Homo sapiens: one gene and its partners. The protein of the gene in region 1 interacts with the protein of each later gene in a pairwise test. Each region holds a gene or a part of one and is shown in the gene's direction. Other genes may lie near its edges.

Region 1 (7,780 bases):
TGAAGAGTTATAAAGACCCTGCACTCAAAGAGGTAAGCATGTCTATGGTACATATTAGGCCAAATACAACACAATCAGGGCTGAGGCTTCAAAAATAAAGAGAGGACACGAGGGTAAAAGGATGGGGAAAGACTTCAAAGGAAAAACACTGCAAATGGGCACTGGAGGTGGCAGGATTTTGTGGGGAAGTCAGAACTATTTCAATCTGCAATGGAAATAGTGATGATGGTACAGATGAAGAGTCTAACATGAGTCACCCACTTGGTTAAGCACTTTCTTCTCCTCTGTGATTGGGTTAAAAGGGTTTATCTAAGTGAAAAGGAAGTTTTTGCAGGGAGAGGCCCCTGTACTTTGGGGGGAGGAGGGCTATATGGGAGAGAAGGAAAGGTGGGAAAGGTGGCCATCCCCGGCAGAAAGACCCACACATCCACTTCAAAAGAGGTTAAAAAAAAATGCTTCTCTCTGTGTATCTGTTGGAGAGTGGGTGGTAGGTGACAAAACTGGAAGCAAGGAAACAAAGATGGTCTTTCCCTTGATTTCTCATCTCTAGGAAAGGGCGTGTTAGCCCTGCCTGAGCTAGGTGGGTGTTCAATGCTACTGGGGCGCATCCAAAGGCACAAAATCTTATGTTAAGCGCCACTCACCCTGGAAAAACTGGGTCCTGCGCAATCGAGGTTTTAGTATCTGGTGAAGGCTTTTGAACATCAGATCCAATGTGGTCAGAAGAAAGCATCAGTGTCAATGATACATTGTTCATTCTTTTATTCATTCATTCATTCATTCAAACCTCTTCTATTTATTAACACTGACTAGAGGCTCTACCCTGAATTGAGGCTAAAGGCTGGAGTAGAAAAAGTAAGGATAAGTCACTTCCCTTCATTGCCTCTGTTTTCCTATCTCTAAAATAAGAAGTTGGAGTTTAATGCCTTTGCTTTGCAATGTTTCTTATGCTTAACGAGCTTACACATGAAGTCAGGAGTAGTTTGCCCCGGTATGAGCCAGAGGCACAGAGACAGGGGTTGAAGCTCAGAAAGATGAATGCTGCTGCTTTTCCTCTGCCTCCTTGAAGCTAGGGACCCTCTGAAAGGTGCCAGGGATGCAGCAGCTCTGTGCAAATGAGAGGTCTGGTATTTGCCAGAAGCTTTACCATAATGCAAGGAGAAATAGTGCATGAATGATGTGATGGGATTATTGCTGACCACGAATTTACTGCCCAATTAGTGAGGTGATATTTTGTGGGGGTTTCATTTAATTGGGACTTTCCTGAGCAGATCTAGGTTTATTTAACAGTTTACATTGATTTTTATCTCGGGAGACTAGGGCAGCATGCTGAATTACCACAACCTTTTACCAAACAAAGCTCTTCCTCGTTGACTTTTGATTCCCCTTTCCCTGCATTGTGCTTCTGCATTTCTCTCCAAAGCCTCTGTTGAAGATTCTTTGCAACCAAAGATGGCATCCATGCTTAGAATTGTTCAGTGTCTGGGGTATTTGTTCCTCTGTATTCAAGTAACAATAAATGTCCCTAGGAAGATTTTTTTTTCAAATTACTCGTCTGGAAACCCCTTGGGATTCAAGGTCCAGCCCATACATGCCTCGATACTTCCCCTTCTCAATCCCAGCATCTCCTACCATGATGCTTGCTAGTAGGAGGAGCTTAACAAATTTCTTCAAAGGTGACATCTCAAAGGTCTTTACAGGCATAAATTGTGGCTTCAATACAAATGCTGGGTTTAGATGATGTATCAGTCTGTTTTTACGCTGCTGATAAAGACATACCTGAGACTGGGCAATTTACAAAAGAAAGAAGTTTAATTGGATTCACAGTTCCACCTGGCTGGGGAGGCCTGACAATCATGGCAGAAGGTGAAAGGCACCTCTCACATGGCAGCAGACAAGAGAAGAGAGCTTGTGCAGGGAAACTCCTGTTTGTTTTTTTTTTCTTTTATTATTATATTTTAAGTTTTAGGGTACATGTGCACATTGTGCAGGTTAGTTACATATGTATACATGTGCCATGCTGGTGTGCTGCACCCATTAACTCGTCATCTAGCATTAGGTTTATCTCCCAGTGCTATCCCTCCCCCCTCCCCCCACCCCACAACAGTCCCCAGAGTGTGATGTTCCCCTTCCTGTGTCCATGTGATCTCATTGTTCAATTCCCACCTATGAGTGAGAATATGCGGTGTTTGGTTTTTTGTTCTTGCGATAGTTTACTGAGAATGATGATTTCCAATTTCATCCATGTCCCTACAAAGGACATGAACTCATCATTTTTTATGGCTGCATAGTATTCCATGGTGTATATGTGCCACATTTTCTTAATCCAGTCTATCATTGTTGGACATTTGGGTTGGTTCCAAGTCTTTGCTATTGTGAATAATGCCGCAATAAACATACGTGTGCATGTGTCTTTATAGCAGCATGATTTATAGTCCTTTGGGTATATACCCAGTAATGGGATGGCTGGGTCAAATGGTATTTCTAGTTCTAGATCCCTGAGGAATCGCCACACTGACTTCCACAATGGTTGAACTAGACACTCCTGTTTTTAAAACCATCAGATCTTGTAAGACTCATTCACTACCACGAGAACAGTGTAGGAAAGACCCACCCCCATAATTCAATCACTCCCACTGGGTTCCTCCCACGACACGTGGGAATTGTGAGAGTTACAATTCAAGATGAGATTTGGGTGGGGACACAGCCAAACCATATAAGATGAGGTGCAGAGGATGCCTGGGCGACTAAATCAATGGTTTCCAAAGGATTTAATGTAATGCCCTTAAGTAGTTTTTTTCTCCCAAGGTAGTTTCTTTGAAGTTAAGCAGCATGAGACTTCCAGGTTGGTGGATGAAGAACCAGGGAAAGATAGAAACTGCCTTTTTTATAATGTAGGGCTCAGTTAAGTATTCAAAGTTCCAAGGAGGCAATTCAGGCCCCCATTTCACACCTTTCACTGTTAGAGAGCAGAGCTCCTATCCATCCCAGGCCCTTCCACTTTGTAGATCAATTGCTCTATCTTTTGGCAGCTTCAACAAAGCCCTGTCTTATGAAAATGCTTTATTGTTCAGATCAGGGACCTGGTAGTAAAAATTAACTATAAAATACTTTTTTTTCTATTATGCAAGTAATGGGTAGCCTTTTTAAAAATTGGAAACATAGAGAAAAAAGTTTATTCCTAACAACCGGAGCCTCAGTGGATTAAAATTACTCAGGTTTCTCACTGATGCTACATGCCCATTGAACGTCAGGTGGGGACTCTGCACTGCTTTAGTCTCACTCTGGATACTGGCTGACAGACCACAGCTTTCTAGAATATTGCGGCCGAGGAAAAGAAAGCTTTGCGGCATCTCATACATCTCATATTGCTGCTGCAGAAGTGACAGTCACTTTTCCTCTTAAACCTCTAGTCAAAACTTGTAACCATGCCTCCACTTAACAAGAGGTTTGGAAAGTGCAATTCTGCCATGTAGGGAAAGGTATATGAACAGTGGTAAGGGCTACCACACTGGAGAATAGCTCCTTTCATCTGCCTCCCTTTGCAGCCTGCGTCCCTAGTCCATGCGCTCTACTGCTCCAGTGCCCACCACTGCTTGACTCTGCCTTTGTGTGTGTCAGTTCACATTATCAAGAAGGACCATGACTGGTAGCTCTACGGATGGAGGACCCTTTTGTAGCAGGTGTTCACCCTGTGCCCAAGCCGCAGTGCCTAGAAGAGTGGGGATGGGTCTGTGGCTCCTATCAGGCTGCAGGAGTTGCGGAGACAGAAAAAGTATTTCTAGGACTCCCATTTGGCCTTGCAGTCTCTACACATCCTTGGCAATTTCTCCCATCTTGGCTTCTCCTTCTTATCACTTTGGTCCACATACGGGGACAGCGTCTAAGTTCTTTCTGACCACCTCCTCAGTCCTAGAAAAACCAGACTTGGTTAAGTACCAGAGCACAGAAGGCATTTAGTGCTGCTCTGCTCCCAAGTCATCTATTAGTTTCACTTTAGCCAGCCATACCTCCTTGGTTACATATGAAGCATCTGTATATAACTTAGTATCATGCTTTTTCACATTATATTTTGATTTTTATCGGACCGGAAACCCTAAATCCACAAGCATAACAACAAGATCACATTTGGGCTTTTTCATTTCTGTAACCAGAGGATTGAACGCTAGTTTTGTAGTAAGACTTCAATTCTATTTATCCGTCCAGGCTTAAGGGTTCCTGTTCTTCTTTTTAAGTCATTAAATTGTATCAGACAAGGGGGAAAACGCGTGTGTGACTTTCCCTAAGGTAAGATGGGCTTAAGGGATATTGAAACCAGGGCAGAGAAATGTTTTCTGTGACCCACCAGTCAGGGCAAGGCATAGAAGGAGCAATGACTTATTCATTAGCCCAGATAGAAGGCCAGTCTTTTTCAGGCTGCGGCGCAGAGACGCCAGGCTCAAAGGGCAGGAGGGCCGTCTGCAGGCAGCGCCGCCGCGGCTACCTGGAAGCCCAGCAAGTCACCTGAGTCCTGCGGGTGCCTGGGCTGCCAATCTGCAGCGACCCGTCCGCAGCCCCCGGGGGCAGGAACACCAACCCCGGGACAGGAGGACGTCCTCGGCCCGCTGACTAGGGATCCGCCAGCGGGTGCCGCTGAGCCACATCCCCGCAGTTGGCGCCAGCATCCAGGTACCGCGCGCCACAGCACCTGCCTGGGCGTTCCCGCGCTTGGGGCGGGGCTTCCCGCGTCCCCTTTAAGAGGCCGCATCACCCGCCCTTGACGTCAGAGTGTTTCTCCGCAAGAGCCCGTGTCCCGCTAGGCTCCGCGCCCTCGCGCCCATAGCCCCGGCGGCGGCACGACCAGAGGCGGCCAGGGGAGCGCGCCGCCCCGCTCGGCCCTCCAGTCCCCCTCCGCCTCCTCCCTCCCGCACAGCAGCCGCCAGCGCGGCCTCCTGCACCATGTCGGTGGCCGGCCTCAAGAAGCAGTTCCATAAAGCCACTCAGGTAAGGCGCGCGGCAGGTGCGTCCCGGGGCAGTCCGGGGCGAAGCTGCGAGGGGCGCGCTCGGCGCTGGCCGTCCGGCGGCAGCTTGGGGAGTTCGGCACCGAGCCTCGCCCGCGCCGGCCGCGCCCCGCCTCGCAAGCCAAGGCGGCGGCTCGGGGCATCCCCGGTCTGGGCGTCCACCCTCGGTCCCCCGCCCCCGGCTTGGTGCGCGCTGCCTTCCCGCGGGTCCCCGGCGTCCTGCCTGGTAGCGCTGCTCGCCGCCCCCGCATCATCTCGCGCCCGTGCTGCAGGAAGGGGACCGCGGCTGCACTGCTGCCGCGGCGCGCAGGTGCCTTGGCGGCGCGGTGGGAGATTATGTAAAGTCGCCTCTTCACGGGTGACCTTGCGGAGTCGGTGCACCCGGCTTTCCCGGGATGTGTTGGCATGAGCGGTGGCCGCACTGGGGGTGGCGGGGCGGAGGCCGGCGGTTTGCGCTCCTCTCCCTTACCCTGTTGTCAGAACCCTCCTTCCCCGCCGCCCGCAGGCTCCAGGGGAATGGAAGGCTGGGGTCTTCCTTTAGGGACCCGCATACATTAACTTTTACCTGGAGAACTCGGTCGTGAAACTCCTTTGAGGCCAGGGCATGACAAACAGTCTGCGGGTCTTAAATATTTCCCTAAAACAACCAAATTGTTGAAGACTTAAAATCATCATGTATTTTAAATTGTTTTTAATAAATCTTTGGCATCTTGGATGTGCCCATTTTTCTTTATGGGGTTAATAAGCTGTGACTGTAATAAAACTGATTAATTTAGATTCTAATAATTAAAATCATTGGACTCAAAGAATTTTACATAGGGGCAAGTAAGCGAATACTTACGCTGTGACCTATTTCTTACATAATGTGTGTGATTACTACTTTTTTATCCTTCTGAAATAGGTTCAAATTTATGGGATCTTTAAGGATTTTGATGACTTACCGCGAAATGTTTTTCATGATTTGGTGTTAAATAGTTTTTCATAGGTTAGCCTTAATTAACGAGCTTTCTCATAATTTCTCGGAAGTAGTGAGGTTTTTCCTAGGCTACCACAGTGGCAGCCTTGTTATGAACCACATCCAGAAAAGGTGAGGGTTGTGTTTTACAGAACCTTGGTTAACTTAGGGTGACAGATGCAGCATGTAATTCCCGTCGTGTGTGTGTTTGCACGCATCTGCATCATCTTCATCACACATTCTTGCCTTTATAGAATCAATTATACCTGTCAACTTAGGAAATCAAGAAAAGTAAGACTATTTCTGTAAAAATGTTTCTTAATGTAATTATTTTTGCTTTTCTATTATAATTGGAGTTATCTGTGACCTCTCTGCCAGACATGTTTATGAAAGTAAGTGATTTGTTTGTTGATGTAGTTTGGAAGGCTTCTAATAACTTTATACTGCAAGTTCTTTCAGGTTTACAGAACCAAGCATATGTGCTGCCCAGGAATTCTGTGGCAGGACTTCTTCGATATTACTAACCTTTTTGATTGCTCTACTGGTCACTTCTCTATAGCATATCTCAGCACTGCGTTTACCAACACATCTTTTTTCCACTTGGATTCTAAAGATTTCTTTTGCAAAGCTTAGTGCCCTCAAAGGCAATTAAGAGTCTTGGCTTTGGAGTGGGAAAGGCTAAGGTTTGAATCCTGCCTCTGCTGCTTCTGACCTTGAGAGAGTATTTAACTTCTGAACCTGTCCATGCTGAAGTGATGATAATTTCCGTTGTCTCTTCAGGGTTGAGGTGAAGAGAAACGAGTGTGTAGAACACACGTATAAAGTGTTCAATAAATTATAGTTATTGACATAAAGGATATTTTTATTAGTATAAAATACTATCCCTTATGCTGTGAAGAAGTTACCCAAGCTAGACCTTTTAGTTTTTCCAACTTAAAAAATAGAGCGCTCCATTTCCGCTAAATCTTGAAGTTCTGTGTCGCCCTAAAGTGTAGAAAAAATAATTTAAACTGCGTTAGGAAAGAACTTAAAAGGTTGGAGAAGGTCGGCATGTGATGCGATACGGTTAATGTTTATCACACCGAATCCAAATGCAGAATCACTGCGTCATTGTCTTCCTTTTACTGAAAAGCCTTTTATTTGAAAGGTGAAGCAGCACGTAGTCTCTTATCCATAATTTAGTGTAGCACACTCTTAGAAAGTCTAAGGCACAGGTGACTGTTCTGTGCATATGTATATTTAGGAGAGTATGTAAAGCCCATGTTAATGTTTGCATGTGACAAAAAAATTAGAGAAATAGTCCTGTCCTACTTTTGTAGCCATTTTTTTCCATCAGGTCCGTGAACCTGATGTTATCTACAGAGAAGCTTTAGACCTAGAATTACTTCCTTTTGAGAACTGATGTGCTGGATAATATAGCCTGGGTTTGTTTGTTTGTTTATTTATTTATTCATTTGAGACAAAGTTTGACTCTTGTCGCCCAGGCAGGAGTGCAATGGCGTGATCTCAGCATACTGCAACCTCTGCCTCCTGTGTTCAGGCGATTCTCCTGCCTCAGCCTCCTGAGTAGCTGGGATTATAGGCATGCACTACCACGCTCAGCTAATTTTTGTATTTTTAGTAGAGACAGGGTTTAGCCATGTTAACCAGGCTGGTCTCGAACTCCTGACCTCAGGTGATCTGCCCGCCTCGATTACAGGCTGAGCCCCCGCACCTGGCCTATAGCCTGGGTTTATAAGTGGAAGGAGTCTGTTCACGCAAACGTTTCTTTCTATGGAATTGAGCTTTTTTGCTTGTGTTAGTAAGCGATGATAAATAAAACAGT
Region 2 (7,022 bases), on another chromosome or scaffold:
ATTTGGATATAGAGACAAAATAATTTACTTTGAAATGGAAAGAATTGACTGCAGTAGGGAGTTTGGGCACATCTCTGCACTGGAAATTGTCCTTAGGAGACAAATTTGATATACTCAGCTGTGTGCTCTAGCGGTGGAAAACTGAGAAGGCTCCATCCATTTCTAGTGAGTGAATGGATTTGATCACTAGTGAGAAGAATTGCGGAGATTTTCTGAGAGACTTTCAGCAATGCAAGAGAACATAAGGACGTTTTACTTCTAGATGTGAAGAAAATGACTGAAACTTTAGAAATATGAGACAGATTTAGTTGAACATTAGATTGTTGGGGGGAGTGTAACTTACCATCAAAATCCTGTTTAAATTGCAAATTTATAGTGGTTAGAAGCCATGTGATGTGTATCATACTGCTTTCTATATATGGCATTCAGTAACTCAGTATTAATGTAAATGAGGATTATGACAGTTGTGATGGAAAAATTTAAACTTGACATTCATTCAGAATTGTTTGTAGTATAGCACAATTACGTAATTGAGCAATTAAGATTCTTTTTCTTACGTTCTCCAGGACTAACATGTTTCCAGCCAGAGGCAGATCAGATGGTTGAAAAAGTGATCGGATGAATGTGGTAGGGGTTTTGGGAGGCATCTCGATGGCTGGCCTTGCAGATTTCTCCTCTCCATCCAGGCCTGCACCTCTCGCTTCCTCAAGTGGAGAAGGTTCCAGGCCAACGGCCATCTTCATTCCTAGCCGGGACTCTTGTCCTGAATCTCCATCTGTTCTTCTCCCTTAATGGGGTGGGTCAGCAGTGGATGAAGACCCATCTTAACTCAAGCCCGTAGTAGAAACAGCTGTTAAGTTGCCTCCTGTCAGCAGTGGATGGGCTGGGTCAGCAGTGGATGAGGACCCATCTTAACTCAAGCCCGTAGTAGAAACAGCTGTAAGTTGCCTCCTGTCCTACCTAGGCCTCCCTCAGCCCTCTGAGATCAGATGGAGCACTTTCTGCAGGCAGCAGACCCTGCTGAGTCCTCTTGGCCAATCTGAAAAATAGGAGCCTCTGGCCTCTGTGCTGTCCTGATGTCTGCTGCTGTGTTTGTCTAGGTCCTGTGCCTGTTCCTGAGCTCCCTTCCACCTGGGCTTGGCAGGTACAGAGAGGCGGGGAGCAGCATTTGGTAATGACTAGTTCAGCCCTGTCCACCTGCAGACGGGCATTTATTTCTTTACCATCCCTCAGAGTTCCATGGGCTGTTTACATATGAGGGTGAAAAAGTAATATGTGTACAAAATTCAAAAATTCAAATGATACCAAAGGACAGAGTGAACAGTTAAACTCTCAGCCCCCCTCCCACCCCTCGCTGCTGTTTACCTTCTCAAGAGGCAGCCGCTGTTTCCAGCAGTTTGCCGTGTAGGGCTCATGGCTGGTGCCCACCAGGCAGGCAGGTGCCCCACACGTGCATGCTTCTTAGGGGGTGTTTGCACAGCACCAAATGCTGCTGGGCTCCATGGGGTGGCATGTTGTGGGGTGAATTGTCCCATCTTCTTTTCTGGATTTTTAAAAATACTTTTAAATATGGAGATGAAACAGTTGTCTTATTATTTTGTTTAAAAGACATTTTTCTGCTTAGAGTTCCACTCAGGTGTTTCTGAAGTCTTGAATCCTTTTATAGAGATGTCTCATACATAAGGTGATTTTAGAGATGGGTGTGCCCAAGCTCTTGATTTTGACTTATTTCAATTCTAAACTCCCTTATTTATTACTAAATCCAAAATCTGTTACCCTTGCAGGTCATATAATCTTTGCAATTTGGAATCTGTTTAAGTGAAAGATACATGTTAGAATATGTTTGAGATTTTGGTATAGTTCTGATATGTGTTAAATTCCTAGAATTTTATTTAAATTTTAAATGCTTTTAATAGGGTTAAAAGTTGTATGGATTGAGTTAAGTAAAATCTATTTTTACTGATTTCCATGACCATAAGAAGTTGGTTTCAAATTTTTGTTGCTTGAGCATGTTGAACAAAATTCATTGTATAATGTGTATCTCTTGTTGTATTCAGTGCCCTATAGGATATTAAAAAAATAACTTACTCTGCTTGGTGGGCATCTGCTGGTCACCGTCCTTCTCCTACTCCTCAGCGTACACAGAACTCTCAGCTTATTCCCTGTCATTGTGAAGCAGAAAGAGCTAGAAGACAAATAGTCTGGTTTGAATTCTTTTTTTCTAGCTTGAAATATTTTTGTGTCCCCCATGAAGACTCAGTCATTTTTGAGGAAGCATCATTTCCCAGCTCTAATGATGAGTCCTTAGTTGGGAGGAACATCACCATTTAAACAGCCCCGGTGGTGTCTTAGCTGGCCTCCTTTTCCATAGCATGCCAGTGCACATAGCAAGTTGACAGTGGAGCGAAAGGCTCTTGGACTCACAGCTTGGGTCATGCTGCTTTCATCTGGAAGGTGATCCACTGAGAACCTTTGTTTACTAGACTCTGGGCTGTAAGACAAGAGGAAATGGGAAGTGGCAGCTGTGGCGAGAAGGTTTGAGGTGAGGCTGAGCCCGATTACCAGATGCCTTCACCACCTGTCATTCCTCAGTGCATTCCTGGGCCAGGAGAGGGTCTGCGGAGCTGATGCAGGCGATGGGCAGTGGAGTGGTGCCGCAGCACGGTGCAGGGAGCACCAAGGCTTAGCTACCAGGTGTGCACAGGACTCCCATGCCCTGCTCTGGCAAACACATCAGCCGTCTGAGTCTTTGTCACTTTAATTCGTTAGTTTACTCCATTTTACTGATGTAGTTTCAAATTTTGGTGGTCTCAATATATGAATTTACTTTACGATATTGGCGTTACAAAATAAATACAAAAGAAAATGCAGTATTGTTTTTGCAGTTTCCAATCATTTGCTGTGTCTACTTAGTTGAATATTGTTAATAAATAGGATATGCCATTCTCTTGACTAAGAAATTATCATTCATCTGTTTCAGGAACTGTTGATAATGTTTCACCTAACTTTTGTTTTGTAGATCTTACAGACTCTTTCAGCACCTACGAAAAATTTAGAACAGCAGGTGAATCACAGCCAGCAGGGACATACAAATGCCAATGCAGTGCTGTTTAGCCAAGTGAAAGTGACTCCAGAGACACACATGCTACAGCAGCAGCAGCAGGCCCAGCAGCAGCAGCAGCAGCACCCGGTTTTACACCTTCAGCCCCAGCAGATAATGCAGCTCCAGCAGCAGCAGCAGCAGCAGATCTCTCAGCAACCTTACCCCCAGCAGCCGCCGCATCCATTTTCACAGCAACAGCAGCAGCAGCAGCAAGCCCATCCGCATCAGTTTTCACAGCAACAGCTACAGTTTCCACAGCAACAGTTGCATCCTCCACAGCAGCTGCATCGCCCTCAGCAGCAGCTCCAGCCCTTTCAGCAGCAGCATGCCCTGCAGCAGCAGTTCCATCAGCTGCAGCAGCACCAGCTCCAGCAGCAGCAGCTTGCCCAGCTCCAGCAGCAGCACAGCCTGCTCCAGCAGCAGCAGCAACAGCAGATTCAGCAGCAGCAGCTCCAGCGCATGCACCAGCAGCAGCAGCAGCAGCAGATGCAAAGTCAGACAGCGCCACACTTGAGTCAGACGTCACAGGCGCTGCAGCATCAGGTTCCACCTCAGCAGCCCCCGCAGCAGCAGCAGCAACAGCAGCCACCACCATCGCCTCAGCAGCATCAGCTTTTTGGACATGATCCAGCAGTGGAGAGTTAGTAATGGAGATTATTTTTCCTCTCTCCTAAAAGTCTTGTACCCACATAAATGCTTTGAGAGTGTTTGAGTGTGGGGTGAGGATTCATATCAAAACAATTACTACAAAATGGAGAGTGTGAGTCTCATACCTAACAAAGAATATAGTTACCATGGGATAATTATGCTTTCTTTTGTACTTTGGGACATCATATCCTGAAGTGAATATTGGTGTCCCGTAGAACATCTAGGCTGCCACAGGGACTCATTCAGGGTATTTAATGGCCAGGCATGAGTTACCTTGGTTTTAGTTTTTAATGATCATTTGATGTAGACAGTTAAATAGTATCTTCGTAGCAATATTCCCTATGCACTCTGATTACTGGCAGATACGTCATGGTCAAGACTGATAAACATAACAGATTGACATTGTGAGGCGCCACTTTTTAACTTTTGTGCAAGCATATTCATAGGGTTTTAATTTTCTTTTTCTTATGTAATTTTACTCTAGTTCCAGAAGAAGGCTTCTTATTGGGATGTGTGTTTGCAATTGCGGATTATCCAGAGCAGATGTCTGATAAGCAACTGCTGGCCACCTGGAAAAGGGTGAGATTGTGCCTGGAGGAAGGATGACTGTGTCTGAAGATGCTTCTTTCTTATGTAGATGTAACTGTGTTCACTTAGCTGCATTCACTGAGCTGCACCTGCACGTGTTCTGAATGTGTGACGGGCATTTTGATTAACATTCTGTGTGACCTGAGGCACAGCACTTTTCTGGGCATCAGTTTTCTCAGCTGTTAGATGAAGATGGTGGACTTTTTATTTTTTTCAGCTTGGAAATTCCAGGGGGCACTAATTATATGTGTATAATTGGGGCAATGGAAATAAGTTCAGGGTTTTGGTGTCCTGGGAGAGGGACTATTAATTTGTATGCATCTCAGTCATTTCTCTTTCTCCAAAGGTAACTGTTAGAAAATCCTGGAATCTCTAGAACCTCAAATTCTTCCAGCCCAATTGTGAAACTGGAGTTAATTTAATTATGTATTATCATGCATGGTGGCCTTTAAAGAAAAGAAATACTTTTTCTTGCATTCCCCAAAACAAAACTGAGTCAAAAAATTTTTTTTATAAAAACCGAGTTTAAATATGCCTCTAATATATCTTGAATGTGCTTCACTATAAACATCCCTAGTGCTTAAATCCCTGCTATGTGCCAAGCATGCTGCAAGACTTAGGGAATATGTGCGAAATCACAGAGACGGAGAAAACGGAAGAGCAGTGCGAGAGGCAGCCACACGGCTAAGCAGAGGTGGGGTGGCAAATGCAGGCTGTTGTGAGAGCCTGAGAAAGGACCTTCACCCATCGTGTTGTGGGGTGATGTGTTAAGAAAAGTCTGCTGGGAGAGGTGATTCCTGAACTGCTTATAGGATGAGTAGGAGTGAGAATTAGGGGGGAGGATTTTCCAAATAGTGCAGCACAGCCAAAGGCATGTGATTGGTGAAACTGACAGGAGGGTGCAAAGGAGGGTGCCTCAGTGGGATCCACGAGGCAGGGGTTGGGGCAGGAGCCAGGGCTGGTGTGTCTTCCAAGACCTTGTTGGTGTGCCATGTGGTGAAGTTTAGATGCAGGTGAAGTGATCAGCTGTGCATTTTAAATAGTAAAGGGTTGAATCTGAGGGTGACCAGGGAGATGACTGTGTGGCTGGCTGAGGAAAGAGGCGGATGGCATGTGCCAGGGTGAGGAAGGAAGGGAGCAGTTCTGAGAAGGACAGCAGCAGAGATTTTTTAAAAGTCAGAAGTGTTCGAAGGCAGCACTGAGAAACTGTCTTGAGAAGTACAACAAAACTCAAAGATACAAAAGTTAGTGGAGAAAAGTTTGGGGTTTTTGTCTTGTTTTCAAGTTAAAAGATTTATCCAAGAGGTCTAACATTAAATAGGATCTTGGGAACAGAGAAAATGAAGGCAAGAACATTATGAAAGAAAATAGCTTTGCAACTGAAGGCCATGTGCCCTCAGGTTGAAAAGAAATGTAAGGAGAGCCATGATAAGGCAACTGGGAACATTCACAATGCTGGTAGAGAAAACTGTTTTCTCTCAAAGACAAGCTCACTGGAGGGGAAACGTGGACAGATCAGGAGTCTGGGTGATTTCGGGAGCCTCCAGTGCAGTGCGCGGGGGCCAGCAATGGAGCAGCTTCTTCCATTTTTGAGGGAAAATAATTTCCAACCTAAAATAACCTATAGAGCCTATCAGTCATAAGACTATGGAAGGAGGATATTTGTAGACTAATGGTAAAAAATGTACCTCCCTTATATTCTTTCTTAGGAAGCCACTATGCCAGCAGAGAGTGAAACATGGTAGCCAGGAAATGAGGCATTTGACTCAGAGATTGAAAGAGAGTTCCTAGGATGGAGGTAAAGGGAAACGCCAATAGATGAGAAAGTAGGTGTCGAGAGAACTAGACCTGGGACCGGAAGAGAGACTTCCAGGAGGAGCAAGCAAACGAAAACACTGGTAGATTGAGGAGAGACATGTACCGCTGACCCCTGAACAGTGTGGGGCCTAGGGGTGCTCACCCCCATGCAATCAGAGATCTGTACATCACTTTTGATTCCCGAAAACCCAAATTACTAATAGCCTGGTGTTAACCAGAAGCCTTACTGATAAACAGGCAATTAACGCATATTTTGTATATGTATTACCATATTCTTACAATAAAGTAAGCTAAAGAAAAGAAAATGTTATTAAGAAAATCATAAGGAAGAGAAAATATATGTACTATTCATTAAGGGGAAGTATATCATCATAAAGGTCTTCATCCTCGTCGTTTTCACGATGAGTGGGCCTAGGAGGAGGAGGGACAGGAGGGGCTGGTCTTACTCCCTCAGGGGTGGCAGAGGTGGAAGAAAATCCAGCTATCAGTGGACCCACACAGTTCACACCTGTGTTGCTTAAGTATAGGTGATACTACATTCATTTTCTCTTGCTGTGTAACAGATTATCTCAAAACCCAGTGGCTTAAAACAATAAACATTACCTCTCAGTTTGGTCGTGGGTCAGAAATCCTGCAACAGCTTGGCAGGGCGGTTGTGGCTCAGCTATCTCCTGAGGTTGCAGTCAGGATGCCAGCGGAGGCTGCAGGAGCCCCTTCCAGGATGGTTCCGTCACATGGCTGTGGGCTGGAGGCCTCAGCTCCTCACCACAGAGGCTCTCCAGAGGGCTGGTTGTGTGTCTTCACAGCATGACAGCTGGCTCCCTTCCCCAGGGGGTGTGACCCAAGATAGAGGGAAAACCCGCAG
Region 3 (7,384 bases), on another chromosome or scaffold:
TGGAAATACATGTTAGGAGGGCACTCCCTGCCCCGGAGTCACCCTTTCTGCTGTCTCACCTCCACCAACCCATCCCCGCCCTCAGCATTCAAGGCCTGTGAAGGTCCTCTTGGTCTTTGATGCCTTTCACACCAATTGCCCTTCATGTCACTGTGACCCTGTGTTATGGGCTAAATGTGCCCCCTCCATTACTCCTCATTTCATGTTTGAAGTCCTAACCTCCAGTACCTCAGAATGTGACTGAGTTTAAAGGCAGGGTCACCAGGCCCAGGGATAAGATGGCCATTAACAAGCCAAAGAGAGAGGCCTCAGAAGAAACCAACTCTACTAATACCTTATCTCAGACCTCTAGCCTCCAGAACTGTGAGGAAATACATTTCTGCTTAACCTACTCAGTATGTGGTACTTTCCTATGGCCACTCTAGCAAATGAATACACCCTGGAACTCACAGAATACTTTATTTCTTTTGTTGTAGTTCAACTCCAGAAGCACCATGTGGGGACAAGGTGTTCCCATTCCACCTCGGGAGTAGAGGCCAGGGGAAGGAAAGGCAGTAGGGCCAAAGCTATCACTGTAGGAAGCTCATGAGATAGGGACCCATCTGCCCAGCTCTCCTGAATCCTGGAGCCTCGCCAGAGCTCCCTCTTGCATCTGCAATTCCACCTGCCTGGAATGCCCATCTCTATAGGTCTTCTCTGTCTTGCAAGGCCCAATTTAGGGCTTCCTACTTCTCCCCTTCCTCTCTCACTTCCTGTTCCAGCCCATACTGAACTGCAACAGCTTAATCCTGACCCCTTGCTGGCCTCAAGTTTGGGTCCTGGGCTGTCTGTGTCCTGTGGCCAAGCAGCCGCCTGCTTCTTTGCTCAGTAATGCTATGATGTAGTCTCCCAATTCCCAGCCTGCTCTGGACTCAGCTGTTGTGCCTAGGTCTTGCAGCTCCCTCATGGCTGACCACTGCCTCACCATCAGAAAGCCCCAAGGTAGGCTGCTTTATGCTTTTGTATTTTACTTACTACAAATTGTGTTCGGGCAGTTTTGCAGGTTGTAGGCCTTCCCATACTTTCTTTCTTGTGTTTGTTTTGAGACAGAGTCTTGCTCTGTCACCCAGGCTGGAGTGCAGTCGTGCAATCTTGGCTCACTGCAACCTCCACCTCCCAGGTTCAAGCGATTGTCTTGCCTCAGCCTCCCTAGTAGCTGGGACTACAGCCACACGCCACCACACCCAGCTAATTTTTGTATTTTTAGTAGAGGTGGAGTTTCACTATATTAGCCAGGTTGGTCTTGAACTCCTGACCTCAAGTGATCCGCCCGCCTTGGCCTCCAAAAGTGCTGGGATTACAGGCGTGAGCCACCATGCCCAGCTTTGCCCAAAATTTCTCTATCTCTGTCCAGGTGACCTCAAGATGGTCTTCCAGGCTGGGCGCAGTGGCTCTTGTCTGTAATCCCAGCACTTTGGGAGGCTGAGACAGGCAGATTGCTTGAGCCTAGGAGTTCAAGACCAGCCTGGGCAACATGGCAAAAACCCATCTCTACAAAAAATACAAGAAAAAATTAGCCAGGCCTGGTGGCACACGCCTGTACTCCAGCCACTAGGGAGGCTGAGGTTGGAGAATTGAGTGAGCTCAGGAGGCCAAGGCTGCAGTGAGCCGACATCACACCATTGCACTCTGGCCTGGGCAAACAGAGCAAGACTCTGTCTCAAAGAAAAAAAAGTCTTCCAGAAACAAGCTCTTCTAAGATGCTGGAAGAACTGGCAAAATTTTTCTTTCTCTTTAAATAAATTATTTGCAAGGTCTTATATTTTATTTTTTTTAAACTGTGGTAAAATATACCTAACAAAGTTTACAATTTTTCTTTTTTTTTTTTGAGACAGAGTTTCGCTCTTTGTTGCCCAGGCTGGAGTGCAATGGCACAAATCTTGGCTCACCGCGACCTCCGCTTCCCGGGTTCAGCGATTCTCCTGCCTCAGCCTCCCGAGTAGCTGGGATTACAGGCATGCACCATCAGGCCCGGCTAATTTTGCATTTTTAGTAGAGATGGGGTTTCTCCCTGTTGGTCAGGCTGGTCTTGAACTCCCAAATCAGGCGATCCACTCGCCTTGGCCTCCCAAAGTGCTGGAATTACAGGTGTGAGCTACCGTGCCCAGCCACAAAGTTTACAATTTCAAGCATACAGTTCAGTGGCATTAAATTGTTCAGATTGTTATACAGCCATTAAACAGTAACTCTCCATTCTCCCCTCCCCTAGCCCAACAGACACCATTCTACTTTCTGTCTCCATAACTCTGACTAACTAGGTATCTCAGATAAGCAGAATACAGTATTTGTCCTTTTGCAACTGGCTTATTTCACTTAGCATAATGTCTTCAGGGTTCATTCATGTTGCAGCATGTAACAGAATTTCATTCCTTTTTAAGGCTGAATAATATTCCATTGTATGTACACACATCATCTTTATTCATGCATCCATCCATCACTGCATGGATTGCTTCTCTTTTGGCTACTGTGAAATGGTACTGCTATGAACATTCATGTAATTTCATTTTCTTCTGCTCTAACTCCAACTGGAATGAAGCTAGGCCCTTGACTAAGTCTTGAAAGGGTTTGAGGTCTCACAACAAAGGGACCTGGGCTCTACCTTGTGGGTGAAGCCTGTCTTAGAATCCCAGATCCCACCCACATCCCACGGTCTCCATAATTTTTCTTTTTCTTTTCTTTTTTTTTTTTTTAACACATGGTTTCACTTTTGTCGCCCAGGCTGGAGTACAATGGCACAATCACGGCTCACTGCAACCTCTGCCTCCCGGGCTCAAGGTTCCTCCCGCCTCAGCCTCCTGAGTAGCTGGGACTACAGGCGTACATGAGCCACCATGTCCTGCTAATTTTTATATTTTTTGTAGGGACGGGGTTTGGCCATGTGGGCTAGGCTGGTCTTGAACTCCCGGGCTTAAGCGATCCGCCCGCCTCGGCCTCCCAAAGTGATGGGATTACAAGCGTGAACCACCGCACCCGGCATCGTGGTCTCCACATTTCATCCAGAACGAGTCAAAGGCCTTGACCTCGAGCTTAACACGGACCTGAACCTTTGCTCTTCCCTTGTTTTCCCTTATCAGTAAACAGCCCCACAGCCACCCACCTGCACAAGCCAGAAGCTTGGAAATCATATTCGACGTCCTCATGCCCTTACATCCATCCATTCCAAGTTCTGATACTTTTGTCTCCAAAATATTCCTCAAATATTTCTCAAAGTGGGCAAAATATTTCTTTGCTCACTTTTTACTTCCCTCTGCTCCAAGCCACAATCACCTGTCTCCTGGAAGACTACAAAAGGCTCACTGATCTCCCAGCTCGCACTTTTGCACTCACTATCTCCAGGCCATTCTCTGTTATTTCTATTGTTACTATTATTATTTTGAGACGGAGTCTCGCTCTGTCGCTCAGGCTGGAGAGCAGTGGCAAGATCTAGGCTCACCGCAATCTCCGCCTCCCAGGTCAAGCGATTGAACCTCCAGCCTCAGCCTCCCGAGTAGCCTATTATTTATTTCTAAAAGTAGGTGATACAGCCATATGATTTAACAATTCCTGCTCTATAGGTCCCCTCTCCAGAGGCAACAGGTGCTCTCCATTCCGTGGTCTCCTTCCAGATACTGTGGGCGTCCCTGGGTGCTCACCTGGCCGTATACCTTCCCCCACCCACTTCCCCACAGGGCCCGGGGCCTCCTCACTCCGCTTGAGACCCTCCATCCAGGCGCTCCCTCCCTATCGTCCGTCTCCCTTGGGCACTGCCCGGCCTCCCAGGCTGGGCTGAGTAGGCCAGTCTCCGGTCAGTGATTCTGTTCCAAAGCTCGAAAGCCTTCGCAGCACTGGGACTGAAACCCCCAGCTCTCAGCCCCGACTCCTTCAGGCCAGGTGCTCCCTCCGCACCCTCTCTAAGGCCCGTTTTCGCGTCATCTCTTTCCAGCGGCCCGCCCGCCACGTCATCTCTACCACAGCACCAGTCCTCCACGGCTCTTGACAATACGTGGGAGGGCAAGTTCATAGGTGAGGTCTCATGCTCTTCCTAGGAGGGAGGAGCGCGGCGGGCGGGACCCGCAGCTGGGCTTGGCCCGGGAGCGGGGAATAAGCTCGCTCCGCGCCTCTCAGTTTAGTGGATGAAGACTACTATCCCAGAAGCCGTTTCGCCTCGGGCTGGCGAGCTCCTCCCCGCCCTACTCCCTCCGCGCGAAGAAGACTGAGCATGCGCAACAGGGACAGCGCCTGCGCAAAAGACTACGCGAGCGGGTGGCTGGGTTCACTGCAACTCCCGGCAGGCCGCTGGCATTTTTCATTCCCTCCCGTGACCAGTGACTTCCGGCACGAAGGGGCGGGGCTGGGCTCGTGGCTGAGCCAGCAGCTGCAGCAGCTACGGGAGTGGCCGGGTGGCCGGCGGGTGCCAGCCGCCATGGAGGCCGTGCCCCGCATGCCCATGATCTGGCTGGACCTGAAGGAGGCCGGTGACTTTCACTTCCAGCCAGCTGTGAAGAAGGTGAGCTTGCCTTCCATCTTCCCCCCTATCCGCCGCGTATCTCCGTCGTCTGCAAGCGCGTGACGCCCCCCTGCGCGCCCATCACCTCCTCAGGCCCGGTCGCAGGGTCCGGTGAGGCCAGGAGGGGCCTTCGCCGGTTTTCCTCAGCCTGTCCCACACCCCGGCGCCCGCAGGCCATTCTTCTCCTCCCCGATAGCCCCGTGCTAGCACCTGCATCTTCATCTGAACCCGGTTCCCGACTTCTGCCCCGAGTCATCCGCTGTTCCCACTGAGGCAGCACACTTCCTCCTTCTGACGCTCGGACCCAGTTCTGCCCCGCCCCTCCTCCATGCCAGGACCGCCCCGCGCGGGAGCGGTGGGCGGCCCTGACCGTGCGGATTCTTTTGCTGCGCCCGGCCCTCGGTGCGCTGTCAAGTCCACGCCCGCCTGGGACAGACACTGGGGATGGCTCAGGGGCGTGTGTTTAAGACGTGAGCCCCGGTGGCCCAGGGAGATGCCCGACCCCTGCGGTGAGGGTTTGTTTTACAATTGCTGCGATTCTGTATGGTCTCCCATTCGGGAGTCTCTTTGGACCAAACAATACAATCCCACGACATTTTTAGGAGGGTTACTGCTTTTCGTAACCGACTGGAGGGCATAAACAGTGTTGTAGAGCTCAGAGAAATCTTACTGTGTTGGAAGAACAGACGGGCAGGTTTGGCGTTGACTAAGGCAAGGAACTTCTGTGGAGAGGTTCAGGTGTGGTGATTGAACACAGGTGCCCTCCGAGACATCCGCTGTATTGGTAGCACTGAGGGCTAGAGCAGAAATGAAAAGGAACAACCAGGAGGCCGTCGCAGGTGGGGGGCCTTGTGGGCTTAGCACAGCAGATGCCAGAGTAAGCCCCAATCTAGATGGTGCACCACTTAGCGAGACGCTTGGGAAGACAAATAGGAAAAAGAAAATGGGTTTGGAAGTAGTTTCCCAAGAAGCTGTCTCCCCTCTAATCGCCATACACCATTGCCTTAGTTCAGACAGTGTTTGAGTCCATCATCTAGCCTCTTGGGGCCAGGAAATGAGGGTAATTGATCCAAAATTCTAGAATTTTGTTAACGGTTATCCAGACGTTGCTCTCTTCTTCATCTGCTGTTTCTTTTTCCTACCTTTTTTTTTTTTTTTGAGACGGAGTTTCGCTCTTGTTGCCCAGGCTGGAGTGCAATGGCACGATCTCGGCTCACCGCAACGTCAGCCTCCCGGGTTTAAGCGATTCTCCTGCCTCAGCCTTCCAAGTAGCTGGAATTACAGGCATGCGCCACCATGCCCGGCTAATTTTGTATTTTTATTAGAGATGGGGTTTTGCCATGTTGGTCAGACTGGTCTCGAACTCCTGACATCAGGTGATCCGCTTGCCTCGGCCTCCCAAAGTGCTGGGATTACAGGCCTTCATCTGCTGTTTCATACAAATACAATTGGATGAATTTTTCTAAGACACAACAGAACTCCTGTTTTCTTTTTCTTTTCTTTTTTTTTTTTTTTTTTTTTTTTTTGAGACGGAGTCTCACTCTGTCACCCAGGCTGGAGTGCAGTGGCGCAATCTCAGCTCACTGCAAGCTCCGCCTCCCGGGTTCACGCCATTCTCCTGCCTCAGCCTCCCAAGTAGCTGGGACTACAGGCACCCGCCACCACCCCTGCCTAATTTTTTGTATTTTTAGTGGAGAGGGGGTTTCATCGTGTTAGCCAGGATAGTCTCGATCTCCCGACCCGTGATCCACCCACCTTGGCCTCCCAAAGTGCTGGGATTATAGGCATGAGCCACCGCGCCTGGCCAAAACTCCTGTTTTCTGTTTTACAGAATAGATCCGGTATCTTTTTTTTGGAGACGGAGTCTTGGAATAGAGCCAGTATCTTTAGTTTTCCATTAGAGTTCTTCCAGACTTATCCCACTTCTTTCAGCATTTATTGAGTCCCCACTGTGTGCTTCATCTACTGTGTGCATCTGATAGAGGTACCCTAGATTCTGTTCTCAGTCACTTGCTGTTTCCTTACCATACTCTGTTTCCTCTTCTGTGCCGTTGGTCATGGAATTCCTCCTGCCTAGAAGAGGTCTCATTTTGCCCTGTGGGGTGGTGAGGTGCCCTTCTTCAATCTCCGTGAATTCCATTTTCTTGTCTCCCATCCAACTTTCAAGGTCTACTTAAGCTCTCCTTTCTGCAGAGCCTTTCTTAATCTTTCTACCTGGATTAATCTTTCTCTTCTCTTAATTCCTTAACTCTTTTCATCCTTTCCCTGGTGACAGTTATGTATGCTGTGTTTTAACCCCCCTGTTCAAGTGTGTGTTACCTGAGAAGCATCTCTGTGTTCCCCAGAGCCTAACAGTGTACCCTCTACATAGTTGGCAGTCAGAAAAATATTTCTCAAATGATTGAATTACAGCTGAGCGGAAATTTAGAGATGGTGACCATAAATATATGGGAATGCAGTAGATAAAATCTTGGCCCAGAAACTCCTAGGAAGTATTTTTGTTTGAACTTAGCCTTTGCTGCTCTGACGATTCACACCGACCCAAAGGGTATTGTGTGACCAGTGACTTCCCTCCATGCACCTGGGCCTCCAGGAGAGGAGTTGCTCATTAGCCCTTTAGCCCGAGGTGGTATCAGATATGAAACAATTACTCCTATAGACACTGGAGGAGACTGTGCAGACACCACTGCAGCCTGGGGACTCTTCCCAACCTGCACCCCCTTCCCCAACTGCAGAGCCCCTTCTCTGCCTTCTGCCACTGGCACCCTTGTCCTGCTTTATGCTTGCTCTGAGCTGTGGGAACCTCTGCCAGTGAATTGGAGCTGAGGGTTAGAATTTAATTTAGAATAGAAGGGTGAA
Region 4 (7,360 bases), on another chromosome or scaffold:
CTGGTGGCAAAATTAATCTCCAGTGAGGTCTGACTTCAAAGCCCATGTTCTTTTCATTACATTGCTAGGTAATCTTAGACAAGATATTTAGCTGCTCTAAACCTCACATTCCTCATCTGTAAAATGGGATAATAATGCCCACCTTAAACAGGTGTTGTCAAGATTAAATGATTACTCTTTTTAAAATATCTAACATATAATAATCATTCTACAAATATCAATTTCTTCCTCTCCCTCAATTACTAAGTGGTGAGTTCTAAGACCTAGCAAAACTTGAGAGAAAAATGCATCAAGGTGTCATTTTTTCCCTTTTAATCTTGCCTTAGTTTTTTTTTCCTGCCCTACAAGAGGTGAGAATTATATTGTTGAGGGAGACCAGACATTCTAAGAACCACGTGTTAGTCGTCCAGCCCACTTTACCAGGGAGAAAAAAGAAACAGGAACTGTCTGGTGGACACATTTCCACCAAGGGCCCCCACTACTTGGCACAGGGCCCAGCACTTTGTAGGGCCCCAATAAATGTGTGAGCAAGAAAGAAGGAAAGGAACAGAGAGAGAGAAAAGGAGGGATGGGTGGAAAAGAAAGGAAAAGAAGATTGAAAGTGATTGGGACTTTTCTTCTACCATAGAGCTCCAAGAGCAGGGTTCTTGACAGGCACAGGATGAAGAAAATTGATGTGTATCTCAAGAAACACCTTCCCATACTGAATTTAGCAGTGTCTGCATCAAAAGACATATAATTCTTCATTGACTCCTTTCACTGAATAAGAAGAAATGGAAAGAAACAGACCAGGAAAATATATCAATTTCTAGAACAAGGCACTGGGCTACAGTTAACACAGAAGATTAACAATTAAGAGTTGCCAGTTTTGTCTTCAGTAGGAATGATGATCAATAAAACATCATGACGTTTGAAGGGGAGGACTCTATAGTAGAAACACAGAGACATTAATTCATCCTATGTGGGACATCAGGAAAGTTGCTCCACAGGCTGGAGCTGAGCTTTTGCATCTGTAAAATGTGGGAGTTGGTTCATATTAGTGGTTCTCAACATCAGCTGTTCATTAGAATCACCAGAGGGGTTTCTGAAAGTGCCCATGCTCTAGCCATAGCCCAGACATTAGCATCTTGGAAGGTGGAGCCCCAGACATCAGTAGTTTCAAAGCTTCCCAGGTGATCCCAATGTGCAGATAAACTTGAGAACTACTGATCCAGGTGATTTCTGGACCCTCACTACCCCTAGTGTGGTCCTCAGACAAGCAGCATGGGTGTCGCTTGAGATCTTTTTAGTAATTAAGATTCTCAGACCTTACCTCAGACCTAAATAAACAGAATCTGCATTTTAACAAGATCCCCAGGCAACCTGTACTGACATTAAATCTTGAAAACACTGGCCTAGGCACTCTTCTATGCAGCTCTTTCTTCTGACAATGCTTTGCTTTTGGTGCTGATATTACAATAATTTTTAGATCTCAGTGCCTGGCACATTGTAAGTGTTAAAAGTTTTATACGTGTGTCATGTATATGTATTCAGAAAGCACAGAAATATCCCATCACACCTGTTCCACACAGGGGGTTAAGTGGAAATAGATTGGAAGAAAATGTAGCCCTGTAAAAGGCACGGACGATTTTATGAGATTCTGATCAAAGATTGTTTTTTCTCTGTAGAATGATGAAGTAGGGTCCCCTAAAGATCAGTTTCCAGGTTCCTCTTCAAAGTCAGCAACACCAGTGCAGTTACTAAAAACAACTGCCTCCATGTGGCAATTTGTATCCAACATCTTCTCACCTGGCAACACATCATTTGCAGGTTCCTTCTCTGTTGCTCATATTATGTGACAGCTCTTTTGTTCACAGCTCCCCCAGGAAATAATAGGTGGGTTGGCTGGGGAGTGTTTGACCTCCCCCAAAGTTTCCTGTTGTAATGTCCATTACCTCCTTTAAGCCTACAAAAGAGAATTCAGCTGACAAAGAAAAAGCACAAAGCATCAAAATACTGAAACTAAAGCTAGAAAGTTACAGATAATGTCAATGCAAGATGTTATTCTGACTTTGTAACTCAGGACTAAGAAGGCAGATAGCCCTCACATTTTAGACTAATCATGTTTAGTTAGGACTTTTTTGAGTAATGGTTTATTTGGAGGAGGGAGTGATTAGTATCCAAATGTTAAGGGAGAAGTGGCATGGGCAAAAATCCATAATTTTTAATTCGATTCAAGTTCCAGATATTAGGTAGCTGCCAATGTCATGCCACTACCCGTATCCCCTCAGGCCTTACATTTCAGTAGGACCTTCAACAGTCAGTATCACTAGCCATTTGCCTGAGGGCTTTCTTTGGCTGTAAGCCCCACTCTGTCTTCAGCACAGAAGACTGAGTTCTAGGATCAGTACCACAGTTGAAGCTTTCAGGTAATGAGTGAATGGAAGTGGTGTATAAATACCCAGTTCCCTTGCCTTTTAGGTAAAATCATTTGGAGATGCTTGTTCTATGCTGGCTCTGGGAGATCCCCAGCAGCATGAACCTCCAGTTGCTCACAATGATAACTTAATATATGCCTGATATTGTCTTCTTTCCCAACTCATTTCCTCACTCACCTACCCATGTTCTCTGTACCTCCAGAATAAACTACTTTTACTTGAATCCTTGCCTCAGGGCCTGCTTGTGGGGAAACCCACAACAAGACAAATTTTATATTCCATTTTCTTTAAGATCCTCACAGGTATAGAGTTCATAACTTATATTATTTTCTTTTAGTTTTAATATTTCAGTAAATAAAATAAGTTATGGTATGAAGAGTTCAAAGTGTTTTGATGACAACCTTGAAGAGCTCATCTTATTACCTTATTCATGATACTCATCTGACATGTGAATCTGCCAATACGTGAGAAGATGAGAAAAGAGATTGATATAACAGCAGCAGAGCCCAATGGGGAAAAGCCCTGGTTTCCAGTTCTGGTTCTATACTTGTTAGCTGTATGACCTTGGTCGGGCAAGCTGCTTAACCTCTCCGACTCAGTTTCTTGACACTTCAAACATGGGGGAACTAATGGTCTCCATCCACAGGCTTGTGGATGTTCAATCAGATAACATATGTGTTTAGGACAAGGTCTGACACTATTAATTACGAGCAGCTCAATGGTCTAACTAGTTACCCAAGAATACTGAATCCATGGGGATACCTTCAACTGTAAAATAGAAGTCCCAACTAAACATGGCTTGCACCAATAAGAACATCTATTACAATGTAAAGCAAGATTCTGCAGCAAGAATCTCCCCCCTCCCTACTTCTCACATTTCATTGGCCAGAATTAAGGCATATGCCTATAAAACCATGAATCAAGCTTCCAATCAAGATAAACCTCCTCTTTCTCTGTATCCTTTTTCATTTCATTTCTCACACTGGGCCACTGTGTGTCAGAGGACTATCACAATAAGCCTCAGTAGATTGGCTGGTGCCGGGCAACCTTAGCTGAGCTCATTCATATACGTGTGGATTGGGTAATATACATGAGGCTCCACCGAGTAGCTCTGCTTCAAGCTATAGATCTGCAGGTTGACGAGGTAGCTTTTTCACCTGTTTCTCATTCGCCTTGGACCACCAGGCTAGGTGGTGCAAGGTCTTCTCATGTCCATGATAGAGGGTCAGGTGTGTTAAGACCTAGGCTTGGAACTGGAACACTGCAACTTTTCTGCCCTTAAACCATTGATCAAACAAGTCACACGGCCAAGTCCAAAGCCAAGGTGTGGGGTCATAGTGTCTGCCTACCATGAAGCCAAAGGGTGTGGACGTAGGAAGGACAGAAAGGGATCAGTCATTCATTCTAATGTAACACGTTGTCAGAACAAAGAATGTGTCAGTACCCAAATGGATCTGAATTCATATAGCATTCATGTTTCTGCCATGAATTTCTGCACTGGTTACTATATTGGGATGTCATCTGGGGTCCCATGTAAGTAAGCTGTTGCAAATGGGCCTGAGAGATTACTTGCCAAATGACAGGGTTGCCCAGGACTTAGTGACCTTCCAGCTCTAGCATCCCATTATTTGCAGTTTGTAGAAGAAAACCGGGAGAACGTGAAAACCCAAAGAGAAGTGAGGGATCATGTCTTAGGAACCTGCATCCTTCCATCCTGCTTCGACTTCTCAACTAAATTCTTAAGTCCTGGAGTGCAGGTATCACCGAAATTTGCCCCATGCCTGAAATACATGGTAGTAGATGGTGACTCTGACAAGCGTGAAGTGACCTGAATCTGGGGGAAGTTTCTGGGTGAACAGAGAGCGCGGAGGATGCGCGGGTCATGCTGGAGGCGGGTCCCAGCCAGATGTGCACAGCCCGCCCCGCCCTCCCTCGCTCACCCCGTCCAGCTTCATCCGCAGAGGAGCCTCGGCCAGGCTTGCCAGGGCGCCCCCAGCCCCTCCCCAGGCCGCGAGCGCCCCTGCCGCGGTGCCTGGCCTCCCCTCCCAGACTGCAGGGACAGCACCCGGTAACTGCGAGTGGAGCGGAGGACCCGAGCGGCTGAGGAGAGAGGAGGCGGCGGCTTAGCTGCTACGGGGTCCGGCCGGCGCCCTCCCGAGGGGGGCTCAGGAGGAGGAAGGAGGACCCGTGCGAGAATGCCTCTGCCCTGGAGCCTTGCGCTCCCGCTGCTGCTCTCCTGGGTGGCAGGTGGTTTCGGGAACGCGGCCAGGTGAGTGTCTGACTGGCGATTGGCTTCCCCCCACCCCCGGCCTGAGGTCCCGCTTTGGGGCCCCATGTCTTTGCAGGCACCCCCGCGTGTATGGGTGTGAGTGTGCACGTGTGCCTGTGCGCGCTGCGACGGGATTTAACCTGGATACCAGGCCGGGAGCGCCCACGGGCTTTCCTCCCTGCTCTCCTGTGGCGGGGCTTTGCACCTAGTTAGCTCCTTTTGCATCAGCTGTGCCCCACCTGGCTGCGTCCGGAGGGTTGCAGGAGGAGGGAGGCTCTGCACGCAGACCCGTGGGTGCGTGCGGGCTTGATGGTCTGCAGACCTGCTGTAGGGGCAGGTGTGTGAGGGTTGGTATGCGTGTCGGTGGGTGGGTTCTGTGTCTGTGCGGTTTTGTGTTTTCCACTCTATTCACAGGACACCAAGTGCTTGTCAGTCGCTAGTTTTGCTGGGGAAGGAGGGAAAGAAACCGAGGACGATAAAGCATTTACTGTTCTTGAGCTGAGCCAGCCGGGCTGCTCTCCTCACTGCTCTCTGATTAGGGTTGATGAACTGGAAAGAAAGGACACGGTTGTCAGATGACAACCATTCTCATTCTTGCTATGGCAATGCAGACTCTGAAGCCGTTCCCTACTGCCCTTAAGCTTAGCTGAGACCTGAAATATTTTTTCCAGAGATCGGCAAAGACGCTTAGTAAATGCACGCTTACATGGTGACTGTCGACCTGGCACTGTTCTAAGCACTTCAGGACTATTAACCTACCCAAAGCCATAATGGCTCTGTGTGTAAGGTACTATTATCATCATCTCCGTGTTGTAGAAGAGAAAAACGAGGCACAGAGAGGTAAAGTAATTTGCCTGAGGAAGCATAGCCAGTAAGAGATGGAGCCAGGGTGCAAACCTAGGTATTCTGGCCCAAAGTCTGTTCTTCACCAGGGCACTAGGGCAGCCTTCCGGCAACGGAAGAGGTTTTCTGGTTCTCTAACTGTGATGTCTTGCTTTCTACTTAGGTGTCCACTAGAATATGGTTTTTCCACCGCAGCATTATTGACCTTTCGGGCTGGGCTGGATAATTATTTGTTGGGGTGATGGGCTGCCCTGTGCATTGTAGGATGTTTAGCAGCACCTGTGGCCTCTACTCACTAGATACTAGTAGCAACCTTGACCCCACCCCACCCCCCACCACCACCACCACCACCAAGTTGTGGCAACAAAAAAAAGGTTTGGGATATTGCCCAAGGTCCCTGGAGGGCACAATTGCTCCTAGCGGAGACTGCTGAACTATAGAAATTTTTCAGTGATGATTCCTGAGGAGAGTAGGATAAGAGCTTTGGTTTGGTACAGGCTTCTCGAAGGTTTGCCTATCTTTGTTTGACTTACAGGAAAAAATATTTCATCAGAGTTAGCCATGGTATTAAAGGATTTCGAAGTTAAAACAGAACAAACCTCAAACCAGGTTCTTAGAATGTATGATCGCAAGTTTCAATTTCCTTTTCATGATAAAAATGTAAGCAGATGCAATTTGCTCATAATCACATTTTCCTTGAATGCTAGAGGTTCTTGCGTTGCTAGAAAGCCCACTTAAAAAAGACCAAATGCTGTTTGGAGATGAGATTAATAGTTCTTTAGCGGCCAGCAAACTGACCTCCAGGAGCTTCACTTTCAAAGTGCCACCAAATTAAATTAAAAGCCAAAAGCCCCTGGATAAACCAAAGCATATTAAACTGGAGAATCCATGTCAGGATTCTGCAATTCTGCAGTTTTCAAGATGTGAACCATGGTTTCTTTAGACGATTATCAAGTTTATGAGCTGGTGTGTTTATTATTTGCTCAATGTGCTTGGAAATGTCAAGTGGTCAGCTCTTCAGGAATGTCCAGGACCCATGTTTAATCAGCTCTAGATTCCACATTATGGATAAGACACTGTTACAGAGAAGGCAAGGCACCCATTGCAGAAAACTGTGTCTACTGGTTATTTCCTGGGGTTTCACAACTTATAGGAAAAACTGTGGCTGCTGTATAGAGATTTCCAGTATAAGCATCAGTTCTTTTTAATTGAAACACTGCACTATGATTTTATAACCTAGAAAATTATGTGCTTCTTAAATGGTATTTAGTGCATAGTACACAATTAACGCTCATCAAATGAATAAATCATTAGCTCCATGCATGTACCTGCCCTTAAGCTTCAGAATTTGGCTTGCCTTATATTTTTTATGTCCTTTGGGTATTGGAACTATTTAGATACCCTAGACCTGTCCAATACAGCAAAGATGGTAACCAGGAGCCCCAAGTGGCTATTGAATACCTGAAATGTGACCAGTCCAAGTTGAGATGTGCTGCAAAAAGTATCAAATACACATCTAATTTTCAAAAAAAAGAACAGGAACTATCTCACTAATCATTTGATATTGATTACATGTTGAAATGGTAATGTGGATATACTGCATTAGATAAAATTGTTATTAAGATTAATTGCTTCTGTTTCTTTAGCATTTAAAAAATGTGGCTACTAGAAAATTTTAAATGGCATATATGGATATTTATTTCTATTGGACAGTGCTGGTCTAGAACACTTATTGATCTGAACTCCATCTCGAGTGTTCTAAGTCCTAACACTGGGATCTTTTTGCCTTGAGTACCTAAGATAAATATATTATTAACTTTGCTATTCTGGA

What was found.
Region 2: the proteins of SH3GL2 (region 1) and PAXIP1 interact in a two-hybrid assay, tested with the Homo sapiens proteins (one study listed by BioGRID and IntAct).
Region 3: the proteins of SH3GL2 (region 1) and PTPN23 interact in a two-hybrid assay, tested with the Homo sapiens proteins (one study listed by BioGRID and IntAct).
Region 4: the proteins of SH3GL2 (region 1) and EGFL6 interact in a two-hybrid assay, tested with the Homo sapiens proteins (2 studies listed by BioGRID and IntAct).

What each region holds. Positions count from the first base shown.
Region 1 is NC_000009.12:17,574,305-17,582,084, forward strand, and holds the start of SH3GL2 (endophilin-A1), read left to right. Parts: upstream 1-4,761; 5' UTR 4,762-4,938; coding exon 4,939-4,983; intron 4,984-7,780. UniProt on the Homo sapiens protein: Implicated in synaptic vesicle endocytosis. May recruit other proteins to membranes with high curvature. Required for BDNF-dependent dendrite outgrowth.
Region 2 is NC_000007.14:154,965,124-154,972,145, reverse strand, and holds part of PAXIP1 (PAX-interacting protein 1), read left to right. Parts: exon of another isoform or gene 1-939; intron 940-2,057; exon of another isoform or gene 2,058-2,092; intron 2,093-3,019; coding exon 3,020-3,743; intron 3,744-4,235; coding exon 4,236-4,330; intron 4,331-7,022.
Region 3 is NC_000003.12:47,376,656-47,384,039, forward strand, and holds the start of PTPN23 (tyrosine-protein phosphatase non-receptor type 23), read left to right. Parts: upstream 1-4,365; 5' UTR 4,366-4,441; coding exon 4,442-4,525; exon of another isoform or gene 4,526-4,837; intron 4,838-7,384. UniProt on the Homo sapiens protein: Plays a role in sorting of endocytic ubiquitinated cargos into multivesicular bodies (MVBs) via its interaction with the ESCRT-I complex (endosomal sorting complex required for transport I), and possibly also other ESCRT complexes.
Region 4 is NC_000023.11:13,565,250-13,572,609, forward strand, and holds the start of EGFL6 (epidermal growth factor-like protein 6 isoform 1 precursor), read left to right. Parts: upstream 1-4,351; 5' UTR 4,352-4,612; coding exon 4,613-4,686; intron 4,687-7,360.